Regions from separate parts of the Homo sapiens genome. Here region 1 is linked to region 2. Evidence: fine-mapped expression QTL. A gene starts in region 2. The other region holds a variant in brackets. All regions are shown on one strand. Distances are between the middles of the regions.

Region 1 (8,346 bases), 130 kb after region 2:
CAGAACAGATTTTCCTTTCATGGTGGTAAAATGTGAATATACTATGAACTCTCCTAATTTTCCTTGTATATTGAAAAGTATCAGAGAGCTGCGTACATAGACATTTTTATCACCCAATCATCTGCCTACATTAAGGCATGTGTGCTAGGCTGAATAACTACCCCGCAATGAAGGCCATATCCTCATTCCTGGAATATGCTATTTTATGCAGCAAAAGGGACTTACAAAACCGGAGATGGGGAAATATCCTGGATCATCCTGGCGGGCCCAGTGTAACTACCATGGTCTTTGCAAAACAAAGACAGAGGGTTAGAATCAGAGAGAGAAAGAGTTCTCTAATAACTGAACCAGAGGTCAGGGTGATGGGCCAGTAAGCAAGAAATGCAACCAGACTCTAGAAGCTGGAAATTTAAGAAATGGATTCTCCTCTAAAGCCTCCAAAAGGATCACAGCTCTGCCAACACCTTGATTTTAGCACCCTAACACTCATTTCAGACTTTCTATCTCTAGAATTGTTAGATAATAAATATGTGTTGTTTAAAGCCACTACATTTGAATTAATTTGTTATAGTAGCAATGTTGTTCTATCAACAAGAAACTAATATAGCATGCCAAAATAAAATGTATAACATTTTCTATTTTTCTTATTGAACTAATATTGTTGAGTATGTTGTTTATGCCATCACACTATGTCTTCTTTTTAGACTTGCACAACAGAAACCCTCTTTGGATGTCAGTACACAAACAACTGTGTCTCCTGAGCTCCCAGAATCTGTGGATTACATTCCTGATTATTCTCTCACATGGGGTCTTCCCTACTAGTATACTTGAATCCAATCCATTCTTAGGAACACTACCTTTATCCCTGGTTCAACTTTGTTTCCTGTTTTGTTTGCTCTTTACCCTTTTTTCATTTATTTATCTTTACTTTCTTATTTTATGCTCTTTTAAGTCATCTCAAATAATTTTTAAAAGATGAGTATAAATGAATAAATCATGAAGCAAATTCTTATGAATCTTTTATTAAGAAAGATCTTCTTTCTGCTTAATTGAAGTCTTTCCCATTGCAAATTAATCTCAGTGAAGCCTGAGCAACATAGAGAGGCCCTGTCTCTACAAAAACTTTAAATAATGATTATGGTGGAATGCACCTATAATCTCAGCTGCTCAGGAGGCTGAGCCGGAGAATCACTTGAGCCTAGGAGTTCGAGGCTGCAGTGAGCGATGAGTGTGTCACTGAACTCCAGCCTTGGTGTCAGAGTGAGACCCTGTCTCTAAAAAATCAATGAAAAGAAAATATAGAGATAAACGGAGGAATTTGGAAGGATGCCATTTTGAAAAAAAGAAGAGTCTAGAGGTTTATTTTACTTTATTTTCAGCTTAGACTAACAAATAACATTTCCATTTTAATGGAGTTCAGAATATGTTTTCCCAAAATATGGCACTTTGGCATTTGAAAAACAGCAGAAGCAGGATGGACATCTCTTTGGCCTTCTCCTGCCATTGTGCCCTGAAGCAGACCATAAAATAATTATCTGACCTTCCTCTAAAGTAGGTCATCATTCTCATTCCAGAGGAGCCCTCCCTCTACCCAGAAAAAAGGAATGAAGACACAGAGAAGAATCTGAACAAACAGGTCTTGCTAAGTTTTACCCAGTTTATTACCGTTGGGTCAGAACTTTTTGTCCTCTAATCATACTTCTGCACAATTGTCCACAAAACTGCACAATTTTCCCTGTTTTTTTTTTTTTTTTTTTTTTTTTTTGGCAGGGGTCTTCATCTCTGAAGGCTTCTATGTCAAGTAAAACTTATACTACATAGATTTGTGTGCTTTTCTCTTGTTAATCTAATTTTTTATTACCAGGGTCTCAGTCATGAATTGAACAATGAATGGATGAGAAAAAAAAAATCTCTTCTCCCCTACAATTTTACAATTATCTTTTTGAGACTAAGTCTCCCTCTGTCACCCAGGCTGGAGTGCAGTGGCACCATCTCAGCTCACTGTGACCTCCACCTCCCAGGTTCAAGTGATTCTGCTGCCTCAGCTTCCCGAGTAGCTGGGACAACAGGCACACACGCCACCACTCCTGGCTAATTTTTTGTATTTTTAGTAGAAACGGGTTTTTGCCATGTTGGCCAGGCTGGTCTCAAACTCCTGACCTCAGGTGATCTACAATATTTTTTTTAATAAAGATTCATCCTGTAAAATCCATTTATTTACACAGCCTCCATTCTGGAAGCAAACTCACTGATAATATGATTTCCCTAATAATGTACATAACAATTCTATTTGTTTTCTACGTAGATGCGTTTATAATTTATAGTTTCCTTTGTGCATGATGATGACAGACTGATATTGGTCCTGTATCCCAAACAGGGATTTAACTAAGATCAAAAATTGGGTTTCAAAAAAAATCCTTTGATTTTTGGCAACAACTGTTCATTCTTTGGCTAAACCCTCGTCTGTAACATTGGCTTCCCATGTTTGAAGGGCTCTTGTATAAGCATGAAGAACTGGCTTTCTCTGCTCTTCACCCAGTGACCCATGACATTGAAACAACCTTTGTCTTCATTGTGACAGAAATGTTCTCATTCAATAGTTGTCACAGAGCACTGTTCATTCAAGGAGTTCCGCTTAGCTGTTACTCTGCAAATACATTTCCTATAGTTGATGCTGATATTGGGGAATTAACCTTTCACACCTCTTTTCCATTTGATCCTACCTGTTGACATTTGTATGCCAAAAAAAGAATATGTCAGTGTCATGAGAAAGAGTAGATATGAAGTTCCAAAGTGCTTGTCTGCCAAGTAGACAGGTTTAGCTGAGGAAGGTGACTGGGAAATGTGTGAAGATCACACCAGACATTGAGATGTATGTTTAGAAACAGGGAAAAAAAAAAAAACCTGATTAGCAAGAAAGCTGGTAGGAGCAAAATCTGGGAAGTGAGCAGATAATAGCAGGTGACAAAGTGGGCCATAAAGTGGTGAATAAAGAAGAACAATTTGCAGAGATGCATGCACCATTCAGCATGAAAACTTAGTAGTCGGTCAAGGAGACAATAGCCTTGACTGGTCGAAGTGGAGTTTGATTTGACTTTTTAGGACTTGTTGTAGAATGAGAATTCCCTTGATCATGTGGGAAAGTAGGGAAGACCAGTGCCCAAGTCACTCATGGAACCTTATAGAGAGAATGAGGGGGCCAGCAAAACAGTAAATTATAACACTGCAGGGCCAGATTACAAAATGTTTGCTCTAGGTAACAAATATCTGTGTTTTCTTATAGAAGGAATAGAGGGTAATGCTTCTAAATCTACGTGTGTATGATGACAGATGTTTATGCTTCCAAATTTATCTACGTATGATGGCATATGTTTTTATTCATCAATATATTGCTCTTTTATTTCTCAGCCCTCTGTGACAATATTTTATTTCTTTCGTTTTGTTTCATATCTGTTTTCCTCAACAGGCTGTTTTCTTGCCCTGGGGGGCAGGAATCAGATTTATTCTGTTGACTATTCAGTATCCAGGCAGCAAGGACAATGCCTGTCACATAATAGGCGTTAAATATATACTTATTAAATAAGTTGATGAATAAATAAATTAGTACATGAATGATAAACTCAATTTTCATGGATGCTTATTGGTGAGTGACTAACTTGTAAAACTATGACCACCCAAAACTAGATTTGGTTTCTATGTTGGCAAAACATCAGTCTATTTGAAACATTCAAATGAGTAATCATGTGTTTGGCTAAATATTTATCACTCTCCAGGAATTAGAGAAATAGGACTTATAGATGCTTTCAGTCTTTTCTGTCTTTGAGTGAGAAAAACCATAAATAGAACTAGAGCCCTGTTTTCACGTTGGGGCTTTTGTTTTATAATTCCTAGAATGCATGGAAACAGTAAAAATACTAAATATTTAAAAAATTAAGAATGTGGATTAATTTTAGGGTTAACTAATAGGTTCAGTCTTTCCTCTATTTGGTTGTTAAGTCTCCGTACTCATACTTTGAGGATGTTTGAATCTATTTGTCACCCCCATCTGTTTACATTTAGATTTGAAAACTAGATAGCACTTG[T/C]GTAATACAATGATTCAATTTGGACAGTGCCATATTTTAAGGAAGCAGTTTTAAGAAACTTTTTTTTTCTCCACGAAGCTAGGACAACCTCAGTATGTCTAATCTCTAACTTCTTTTCCTGAAAGAGAATCTAAACAAACCCTCTTTTATGGTATATTAGAAAGCAGCACGTTCCTCGTTCACCAAGGATACTTGCTAACATCTCAGGAAAAACAGGTGCCTACGTATAAGGGTCTCCGAGCTCCCAAAGTCCTGCTGAATACATATAATTCCTCTTTCAGAAGGAAAATAACAATACATATAGTTCCTCTTTCAGAAGGAAAATAACAATACATATATTTCCTCTTTCAGAAGGAAAATAACAATACATATAGTTCCTCTTTCAGAAGGAAAATAACAATACATATAGTTCCTCTTTCAGAAGGAAAGTTTTGTGAAAGAATAGCCATTTTGAAACCCAGGAGTAATCAAATATCAGTGGCATGAATAAACATAATTATACCCCCATGAAGAGAAGTTAAGGAAAATAGGGAAAAAGGAAGAATCCTGTAACCATGGAACACTCTACAGTTTTTTTTCTTATTGTTTTGTTTTTTTTTTTTTTTTTTTGGCAATCTAATGCCGATAATTCTCACTATCATTTATTTTCAAGACCATGAAGCTAAACGTCAACTCATTAAATGCTGCATGCATATCTTCTTTTCAGAAATCTTCAATTGATTACAATCAATACATCTTGAAAAGAGCCTTTGGCCAAATCCAAGATTCCTCTGCATAGATTATTGCCTTCAGTGATGGGAACAAAGGGAAAGAAGCCTGCAGAAAAATGTGTCTTCCCTGGAGAAGCAGGCCCTGGAGGGCAATAACCAAGTCAGGAATCAAGGCTGTAATTTTGCAGGCACATGTCTTATTAGATAAATGTGCCTGCTTTTTGTGAATTCTGGAAACTGTTCTCCACTTCATTTATTCTTGGTTTTTCCTTTCTCCCCTAAGAACTTGCCCAAGGGCATGAGTGCCCCCCTCCTGTATCAGCATGACCTGGATGTGAAACATGGAGCCAAAGGAGATTATGTCAGAGCTTTAAGATTTAATTATTGCCTTGTTGGATTTTGGACTTGCATGGGGCCTGCAGCCCCTTTGTTTTGGCCAATTTCTCCCATTTGGAATGGGTGTATTTACCCTATTCCTGTACCTCAATTGTATCTAGGAAGTAACTAACTTGCTTTTGATTTTATAGGCTCATACATGGAAGGAACTTGCCTTGTCTCAGATGAGACTATGAACTTGGACTTCTGGGTTAATGCTGAAATGAGTTAAGACTTTGAGGAACTGTTGGGAAGGCATAATGTGAGAAAGACAAAATTTGGGAGGGGTCAGGGTTGAATAATATACTCTGTGTCCCCACCCTAATCTCATCTTGATTTGTAATCTGAAATGTAATCCCCACATGTTGGGGGAGGGACCTCATGGGAAGTGATTAGATCATGGGGGCAGTTCCCCCATGCTGTTCTCATGATGGTGAGTGAGTTTTCACGAGATCTAATGGTTTTATTAGGGGCTTTTACCCCCTTCACTCCTCTCTCCTGCTGCCATGTGAAGAAAGACATGTTTACTTCCCCTTTTGCCACGATTGTAAGTTTCCTGAGGCCTCCCCAGCCATGCAGAACTGTGAGTCAGAACTGGTTATAAATTACCCAGTCTTGAGTATCTCTTCAAAGCAATGTGAGAACAGACTAATACAGAACTCATATGTATAAATAGTCAAAAAATTAAATATATAAATGAAGCAGCAGCAATGTGGAAAAAAAAAGTGCCAAAAATTGGTATAGTGCTGTCACATCTATTTGTAAATACTCTGGAAATACATAAATATGAGATTACCCTCAGCGAAATAAGTGTTAATATTATTTTGTTCTATTGCCTGGGATACACAGGAACTTTAAACCAAAGGCAAAGATATATTTTCCTACCTTCTCATCTTCAACTCCCGTTAGCTTCAGTTTGGAAGAAAAATGTCTTAAAACTACTTAGCAGCAGGGTATAAAGGAAGAGGTATGTATGTAAATGCATTTTTTGTTTGTTTGTTTTGTTTTTAAAATATGCTTTATTTTTTAGAGCAGGTTTAGTTTCACAGCAAAATTGAGCACAATGTTACAGAAATTTCGCATATACTCCCTGGCTCCACACATGCATAGCCTCCCCAACTACCAAAATTCCACACCAGAATTGTTCATTTCTTACAACCAATAAACCTACATTGACACATCATTATCCCCCAAAGTCCATTACAGTAAGGTTCTCTTGTTGTTGTGGATTCTATGGGTTTGGATGTAAATGGTTTCTTATTTCCTAAAATGCTGAAGAATAATCCATTACCAATATATTTAATAATTCAGTAACTATTAATGAAACCATCATTATTTCATTAAAATGAAGTTGACTGTGATGCAAGAAAAGAGTACTGAATGATATATCTTTGACCGCAAAGATTTTACAACATATTTTAATAAAACAGGAAGTGACAATATAAAATAAAAAATTCTTAACCAAGTGCTTTTTTGAGTGACTTTTACCTGCAAGATGATATCTTAGAATCATTACTATAAACTAGTGGTTGGGAATAGCGGGAGGGATAAATATAATTCAGATGTGCATTCTGCCCAAAGAGCTTAAAGTTTAGTCAAAAAAATATGACATGCATCTAAACAGTTATAATTGAAAGATAAAAGTGACAAAAATATGTGACTGAGAATTGTGAGAATATAAAGAATTATTGGAACTAACAGAAGGGAGAGATTTACTTCAGCTAATCTGATATTGCCTAAATGGGAGAGGTGGTTTATTAACAGGTTCTGAACAAAGGCTGAATATTTATTCATGAAGAGAAGAAGTAAGCAAAGTCACAGAGTCTGGGAAATGTGGAAAATGGCCGTTTATTCATTCCATCAATTCAGCCTCTATTTATGTGTCTATCCAGCACCTACAAGAAGCCAGCCACTGTTGTTGGTGTCGGAGACACAACAGTAAATATAACAGACAAAAATCCTGTCCTTGAGGAACTTACTATTGTGTGGAAGCAAAGTTTAAGTTTGGTCTAAGTGAAGTGGACTTTTTAAAAATGCAGGGGCAGGGAGGGGAGGCAGAAAATGTTCGGGTGGGTAGAATAAGGCTAAGTCATAGAAAGTCTTGAAGGTTAAGCCAGAAAGTCCAAGTTTTGTTGTTTACATAAAGCTAAGCCACTAAAGCTTTTTGAGTAGCAAAATATCGTCATCAAATCTGTACTTCTGGAAGACTAATTAGGCAGCTAATTTGTAAGATGAAGCCAAGATGATTCAGGTAGATAGACAGTGCAGCAGCTCTGCAAAGAAATAACACAGACAAGCAAGTCAGGGGAGAGAGATCAGGTGCTGGAGAGGATATATGTGTCTCTAGCTGTGAAGTTAAGGACACAAAAAGCCTGTTTTCCAAAGAAGGCAAGAAAGTGCCTGGCCAGCACTTCATAATGCGGTTTTGCCCAGGAAAGATTAAGTTTGCAAAACATTCACCCTTTCCTCTGGCAGGTTAATTCTCTTTGAAGTGGTCAGTTAACGGATCTTTACCCCTTTACAGGCATTTCCTTTTGCCGAAAGCAGTGACTACTGAGGTAGAAATGCATTGGCTCCAGAGAATTGAAATGGACCTCCCATCATTAAAGTCTTTATTCTCGAAGGAACACTGAGGATTGAGGAGAAAGGGGCCTTTTTGTTCGGGTTTAATTCTATTGCCTCCCTTGCTACTCATCTGTTTAGCAAATGAAGAGAGAAATTAATGATGATGATGAATGAATAGCGGAGGGAAATGGGTAGGCATTGTAAAGTTAGGCCAATTCACAATCGTCACCAAAATGAGCTTGATGCTTATTTTCCTAGTCTTTAGACCTCTGCCTTTATCCTTGGTTTTTCTTTATTTTTCTGTTATTCCCAAACACACCAATGTACAAAGTGAGTCTGCGGCCAGCTCACAATGAAAGGAGTAAAGAGCTGTCTATTAAATTCCCAGCTGTGATCTGCAGAAACTGAGACTTTCAAATATTACCCACAAGATAGATGACAAAAGTGACAGATAAATATAAGCATCTCAAAATCCCAGGATAAAACACAGATTAACAGTACTCACAACAAAATTTTGAGCACACAAAAAAGTTGGAAAATGGAAAACACACCTATACACACAAATGTACTCATGCAAACATGCAATACACACCACACACACATATAATACAAGA
Region 2 (8,346 bases):
ATGCTATCAACCTACCTCATTTTAATCGACAAGTGATTATGGAAAGTTGATTTCTTTGAATTAAATCCATCACATCAAGAAAGCAGTGCCATAACAGTTCCAGTATTTATGGTGACCCACAAATCATTTGCCCCCTTGCATGCCTTGCTTCTCATCCTGTTCAGTTGCAAGACCAGAAAAGTTGAGGAAGGAGGTTTCCCTTCATGGAAGGTGATGGATTAACATAATTATCATATAGCTTCATTTAGAGTTGATAACACATCTATTCTGCCTCAAAACCTTTCCTGATAGCGATGCCATGAGCTGCATAATAATCACTATGCTTTGATTAATTATTTTGCCAAATAAATGGATAAATTAATTTCACCTACATACACTGATAGCCTCAGTTTCTGCAGGGTGTTGCTTCTTCCTATGGCAACTACTTGGAATCAAAATAGAAGTAATACAAATTGCAGTACTGAGCATACCAAATGGTTACAGTAAAAAGATTTCCATTTCAATTATCAGAATAAAAATATCACATGAAGTTTAGAACTTGGAGTGAAGAAAACTCCTAATTAAGGGAAACTTATGAAAGCCTTTAGCAAGTTCTTTGCTGAATGCATTTTTTGGTTTCTTGATCCTCCAACCAATCACATTGACAATGACAAAAGATATGCAAATTTAAACTGACAATAGTCAAGCCACATTGCTCTGACTCATACCAATAGGGACGTTTTCAGCATATATTCAGCTTGATTTTTACACTTGAAAGGGTGAATGTAACCAAAGAACATTTTAATAGTTATTCTTGGCTATAATCTGAAAGCTATCCCATAATCATTGACCAAGAACAATGCAAACAAGAATCAAATTTATTTTGCAAAATAAATTAACATATGAAACACGTGCATGATTTAAGCCCAGCAGAATTATGTGTTTACCCTGTCACTGCTGAATAATTGCATAGCAACAAGAAATATGCATTACTATGTTTGAATCACTATTGTGATTATACGCTTTAAGCAAACAAAACATTACGTTTTTGGTAGAATAGATCATTCAGGATAACTTGGGACTAAATTTTCCTTCCCGTTCCCTCAAAGAATCCAGACTAATATGTAATGATTGAATTCTCACTAAAAACTATACGGATGGTGTACTGAAGAATAATAACAAGCTGTTCAACCAAAATCATTTGTTTACAATGGAAATAAATTTTACCAAAGAAAAATACAAACATCCTATTATAAACTACTACTGAAAGTAATGCATAAAATTTCAGCTACAATTGTAAAAAACCTGAGAGTTCTGTTTGCTTTTTATTCTTCTGCCTACCTACTGATTGCCTATTACAGTCCTATAGTCTGTAATAGAAAGATTACAATATCAGCTTTGGAAACTGTAGAACTACTAAGTTCCAGTTAATGTGTCAAATAAAATAACAGTGATCTTAGTTCAGTCCCTAGTGGACAAAAGTAGAATAACTATTACTTGGCATGATTCAGCAGGCAATGACCTAAGTGAGTGTGACCACACAGGAACAAAATAGAGCATTTGTCCTTTCCCTATCTTTTATCTTTTTAAAGGGATTGCCCGGTTAACAGACTAACTTAAAGAAGCCTGATTGCATACCTATCTACATGTACCAAGTGAATCCATTAACAAGGGAGAGAAGCTTTTCACAAATTGAGACATTGCCTCCCTTCTAGTAGCATAGTCAGTTGAATATACTTATTCTCGGCTGCCTATTATTAAACAGAGTGCAAAGACAGAATGAATTGCAGAAGTGTGTTCATAATTTAATAGGCTTATCTTCAACAAAAACTTAAATGGTTTGTAGATAAATAACTGGATAAACTATTCGATTTGATTTCTATAAATTGAGATTACATTCATACTCAACATTAACATTCATCAAATAACATGGATACTTAAACTCGCCAGGTACTGTCTCTAACTACAATGCCCTGAGAAGGGAGGTATTTCAGGAATATAGTAGACTACATGCTGCGTTCAGCCCATATCTGCAGGTGCATGTCTTCCTCAACAGCCAGCATGCCCTCATCGTGAGCGAGCAACCCCTTTCCGACAGTTAACATTACAATGTATCTTTTTAATTTTTTTTCTCAAGGACAGAAGAAAAAAATATTTAACAGAAATCAGTCTACTATTCTACCACTTGCTGAAACTAACAGTTCCCTTTACATAAATATACAATTTCTCCAACCAAATATCATATTTTATATTTACTCTCACTTCATGTTAATTTTTATAAAGGTTAAAAAAACAAATACTTTGTGATGATTTGCCACCCCAGCGGCACAAAATTTTCTGGTGCAAAATCGATTTGATCTTATTAATTAATATTGTCATTATTATTTATTTTTCACCAACTTGCTTAAGAGGTACATACTTTCTTTCTTAAGGTAGTGTTTTGACAGAGAGAACCTTAATGCTGAACTTTAGAAAAGAGAAACCAAAAATGTCATAAAATTTGCCAGGGCTAGACACACAAACGGGGTGCCCCCACACATTCATAGGTTTGGGCAAGCCCCCAAACCTTGGCTTACCCAGGAAGCCAAACCCAGACAGCCGTCTTGCAATTGCAAACACTGCCCCCCTGGAGCAAAAGGTAAATACACAAATGCTCCCCTAAGGAACTTTAAGTTAGCTGCAGTGCAAGAAAGGAAAAAGGTCCGTGCTATTAGAAACTGAAAGCAATCACTTACTTTTTGCAGCCACTGAGTATAATTTTCCATCACATGTTCCAGATGTTGAAGTTTCTGGGAAGAGAAATCCGGTTCCACGTGTGGAGCATCTCTCTGCAGAGCGTTTGTGTTGTACTGGTCTGTCGTACTCTCACGACAGTTGCCATCGTGTTCTGGAAGAATGAAAGTGTAGGCACATTGCCCATGTTGAATCCGGTTATATCTTCTCCCACTGTTTTCTGGACTTCGGCGCTGATTGCTGCACCCTATGTGAGTCAGAATGGCAGCGAGGAAAGCAAAGGAAAGGAAAACTGTCATTGTACTGCCAGCACACTCCTTCCGTGCCTCTCGCAAAACTTGCTCCTTTCTTCTGACCTCTAAAACTAGTTCTTTATTTCAGGTAAAACTGCTTGTTTGTTTGACTCTTTCCCCCTCAAAGAAAGCGTTTGAAGAAGAATCATAGAAAACTAGCCATTTGTTAGCTTTGTTCTAAAATTTTAAAATTTTTTATTTCACTGCAATGATGTTTTTCTTCGTTAAAACTTGAGATATTTATTGCATAGTAGCTGAGATTTATTGTTTCCTCTCTGTGTGACCGTTCAGCATGGAGCCTGCCTGAGTCAGCTGCGTGTACATATTCTAGACCCTTTCCTCTACCCTATCTGCTGCAGATCTGCTATTTTCTCCCAGACCTCAGTGAGTTTTATTAAGGTTGCACATCCAAGCCAAGCTGGAAGCAGGCAGCCTTTCACAAGATGACTTGACAGGAATGCATGAGTGTGCCCCTATACTAAGGATTGCTGATGGCTTAGGGCGGCGGGATCGTCTTACAAATTGGCTAGATGCGCATGACCTCGATCATGTATGGCCCTCCCGCCCCTTTCCACAGACAATTGCCTTGAGCCTTTAGCAGATTCATGGCAAATCAATAAATAGAGCAGTCCACCTTAATACACTTTTGGTGTGCATGCTGACCTACTAAAATATAGCAAACTAGCAGTATGTTTTTAAAGTTACTATTTAGTCGAGGGACCCTAAGAAGAAAATTGGCATAATGTCCAATGGAATTATTTTTGATAGAGAATGATAAACCCATATCATTATTAAATGTCTTTAAAAAACATGTATTCTTGACTCTGAGGAAAAATATGTTAAAAAACAGTTTTTACAGATGGTATTCTTTCATTGTATTCACTTAGACTTTTAGGAGTTGAAGAAAATAATCAGAGAGGATCAAATTAGCAAGAAAATTAGCATCATTTGTTGCTCAAAGCAATATGTTGCACAAAGCAATATAGTATGTGCATATTAAAGAGGGTTATCTAAGTACCTTTTGGTATAGGGTTCTTAAATGAAACTGGTGTCCTGATCAGAATGCAACCCTTCATGTTCTGTGTATATAAATTGAGCAACTTCCCTACAAAAACAATGTGGCTACAATTTAAAGCAGTGGCTTGAGAATTATTAATTCCTGTGGTATATCCTAATCCTGTATTTTACAAGGATCTCTTTGGTGGCTATGGCTGTCTTTAACACTGGTGTGGAAGTTCCACATAAAAACCTCCTGTGGCTGCACAGACATACTATGTGAGAACAAGCATATATCAGGTGTGCTAACAGCCAGCAATGGGCTGTACAGGAGACATCTCTGTGCTTCTGTGAAGGAAGAAAGAAAAATTATCAGAAGATGATTTCCCACAGGCAGCGTATAAACATTTGAACAAAGGGACCCATAAACATAAACAGGCAATAATTGTAGAATTTAGGGAACGGCTTTGAGATCTTTACTAGATGCAGAAAACCTGAATTATGAGTTGGGATTTTCATTAGGAACTGGGAGGGCTTTTAGACAACTGCAGTCATGGTGTGAAAACAGAAGCCACAGCTGTCATCTCCCATGTCTTGGAAGGAGAACAGGGCAGTGGGTGAAGGTCCGTAGTGGTTAGAGATGGGCATTTAGGGAGAAGTTAGAGGAGAGGTCAAAACAAATTCCAGAACAAATGCGATTTACTTGGGGAAAGAAACCTTGCCGAGATTCATCAGTCCTTTCCACACCAAATAACAAATTTCTGATTGGACAGATATGGAAGCAAGTTATGCCAAACACAGCAATAAAATATTTGAACCACTTTTGCAGCCTCTTGAACTTTTGCGTGTCTCCTCATTGAGTCATGTATCACTCCTGTGCAACAATAATAATGGCATGCATTAAGACCTTACTGTTTTCCAGGCGAAGCACTCCTTACACACTATCTCACTTAATCATTCCAACAAACCTAAGATCACGGATATCATCCGTTTAACCCCATTTTATCAATGGGAAGACTGAGTCACAGAAAGGCTAACAGGATGTAATTCACAGAGCTGGCAAGTGATGGCGCCAGTATGTGAACTCAGGCAAACTGACTCAGAGCCTGTTTCAAACCACCAGGCCAGCCTGCTTTTGGAAATCTCTGCAAGGAATGAAAGCAATTTCAAAAGCGCTCCAGCTGCATTGATTTACAGTCCTAAACCAGGAGAAGTGACGTACCTAGAAGAAAAAGCACTGTTAAAACCAGAGTATCTCTCCAAAGTGATTCAGGCCTTTTCCAGCACACGCGTGCGCGCGCACACGCACACACGCACACACGCACACACACAGTGACAGGTAACCTATGCACAGCCACAAAGATGAAGTGCACTGGCAAAATGCAGGTTGTCTAAGAACACTTTCCAATAATGCTTGATTTGAAAATTATCCATGGAAAGAAGAGAGTCCAAACCCGACACCTAGAAGTGTTTTGCGAAGAACTAAATACAGCAGAAAATTGGCAGAAGACTAATGGATGAGTGGTGAGGTTTCTATTAAAGTGCTCCTGTGTTTTTAAATAGCCGAGACTGTTAAAAATCTGTTCCTCCACGTGTGTGTCTGTGTACGTCTCTGTGTCCTTATCCATGTGAATTTTCGCAATTAGAATAAATGAAAAGCAGGAATGCACAATTTCCTGAGGGAAAAGTAGACACTAAGAAAGAGAAGCCTGAAATGCAAATAAAAAAGGAGGGGTCGAGGGACAAAGAGACAGAGAAAAATGTAGAGACTGATTTATTTCTTTTGCAGAAAAACAAAATCAACCTTAAACCATAACACTGGAAGTACTAGTGTCATTCTGAAAAAAAATGTCTGAAGATGAATTTTAAGTAATTAGAAAACACAAGGATGTGCAGAATTGACTCCGGTGTTTTTGGAACTCCAGTTAAGGAGACTGTAGGTACATTTAAGGATCCTGACACACTAAAGATAATATGTCTTTGGGATCATGCATCTAAGCAACAGCAACACTGTTGTGTGTTGCTGATTATTCAGAAATGGGGCAGAATTCAGGATGCATTAAAATTTAGGGAGTAGGGCTGGGTTCAGTGGCTCATGCCTGTAATCCCAGCACTTTGGGAGGCCGAAGTGGGAGGATCGTTGGAGACTAGGATTTTGAGTACAGCCTGGGCAGCATAGGGTGACCCTCCCTGTCTCTACCCAAGATAAAATAAAATAAAAATTAGCCAGGTGTGGTGGCACGCCCAGGACCTGTGGTCCCAGCTACTCAGGAAGCTGAGGTGAGAGAATCGCTTGAGTCCAGGGGGTTGAGGCTGCAGTGAGCCATGATTGCCACTGCACTCCAGCCTGGATGACAGAGTGAGACCCTTTCTAAATAATAATAATAATAATAAGCGAGTAATAAGAACAAGCCAATTAAAATTCATCTACCACACCTCCATGAAGGATAAAATATTTATAAAGAACTAAACAATTCTGTTCAATTGAATTCTGTGGTAGCTTGAACCCAAAAGCTTTGTGTTTTATTAGAGATCTGGAATAAGGAAGTGTAGGCTTTAAGGTTTTGATCTCATATTTACAAAGAGTCCTAGTAAATGTCCCACTTAGTCTGAAATTTCCAAAGGGACCAAGAGCCATTTATACCAGAACTTAATGTGCCTAAATCTATCCTAAGAAACAGTCTTTGATAATTCTTTGGTAAAGCTTTCTTAATTTCTCCAGGTCCAATAAATGCTCTCTGTGTTAAATTTCAATAACCTTCTCCTCATGTCTCCAAAACTGCACTGCTCACGTTGCTTGCTAATTGTTGCCTTTTTTTTTATCTGTCTCTTGCTTTTGCTGTGAGCTGCTAAAGTGATCTTCTCTTTGTCATCATTGATTCCTCAACATTCACTATGCACTTTGTCTGAAGGAATGAAAGAATAAGCAAATAAATGAATGAGCTGATTAATGACTCAGTTGATGCAACTTCCTGACTCTCTATCTGGTTACTACATGACTGGCCACATTCATTGCATTTGTTGGGTGAGTTTGCCTAGAATCCCTAGGCATGAAGAACTGAGGATAAAGCCAAACTTATTCTAAAGAATGAGTTAGACGCAAGAGCAAAGTACAATAATAATTCATAGTATTTTTTAACACTTAACAAATAATTTTCTCATCTAATGTTTACAGAACCCCCATAATTATGTAATATTATATATTATTATTCCCATTTTGCTGATGAGAAATGTGGAGCCATAGAGATTAATCGCCCAGGATCTATGATCTCTTAGGAGGCAGAACAGGAATTTGATCCTCAATCCATCTAACTGTGAGGCTCACATTCATTTCCCACTGAGCTATATTGTTTATGACAATACTTCAGTATTGAGAAAATATTTCTTATAATTTAGGGAACAAGAACAACATGGTGACTTCCCCCTTCAGAGGTCCCTTTCCTCTGAAACCCAGGGCTTTCACAGATTCATGTTATGATCTTCCAAAACAGGGATAATATTAAATCAGGATGCACCAGTATGGTAAGATATGCTTACCAACAGCCAATCTGATTAATCGGATTATACTTTAGAAATATTCTAAATGGTTGGTCCTATGCCATGTCATCTGTTAGATATCTTGATCATCACTCCTGCTCTACAATAAAATCAAAATATATGAAAAAAAATAGTATTTATTTCTCAAAAATACCACCAGGCAATGAGATTCAAGGAAATAGTCCTCTGGTATTTATACAACCACTTATAGGGGAAAAAGGGGTGGGAAAGTATTCTCCTACTTTGTGTTCTGAACACAATGTGATTCACCACACCAAGGGTGCCATATTCTGTGACTCTGCTCAGGCACTTTTAGGGATCAAGACTATCATCAGGCCTATAGAAGTGGCAGCTCTATCTAAAAGGAGGGAGGGCACTTGGCTGTAGCTCCTGGAAGCAGAGCCAAGACACCTTCACTCAACTATGTAGGCAGCAAAGGTATCCACAACAGTTGGAAATATCACAGGGGACAAAACCAAAAACAGAAGAAGATGGAGGATATCATCTGGTAACTGAAGGCACTTCATGAGTACATGCAAAATATCCATTTAGAACTCCCAGAATAACTGGGAGGATGCTACAAAAAGCTGGAAACACTGCAGCAAGTGGGATGAGGACTGGAGGCATATAGATAAGTGAGGAAAATAAAAATTATCATATAAATATTCCTCTGTCTTTTGATGACAGAAATTTCTGGTAATTGTTAGGTATCTTGTTTGTTAAGTAGGTTTAATTTAATTTTATTTTTGAGACAGGGTCTCGCTTTGTCACCCAGGCTGGAGTGCGGTGGCATGATCTCAGCTCACTG

The links.
Region 1: its variant is fine-mapped to the expression of ANGPT1 in whole blood (TOPMed, PIP 0.99).

What each region holds. Positions count from the first base shown.
Region 1 is chr8:107,628,178-107,636,523 of GRCh38, forward strand. No RefSeq gene overlaps it. Among named protein-coding and RNA genes, the nearest start is that of ANGPT1, 130 kb to the left of the region's middle. The variant T/C (reference allele first, on the strand shown) is at 4,083.
Region 2 is chr8:107,494,548-107,502,893 of GRCh38, forward strand. ANGPT1 (angiopoietin 1) reads right to left here and starts at 3,371. Exons shown (of 9, transcript NM_001146.5): 1 at 2,715-3,371. The coding sequence starts at 3,011. RefSeq lists a silencer at 6,870-7,070.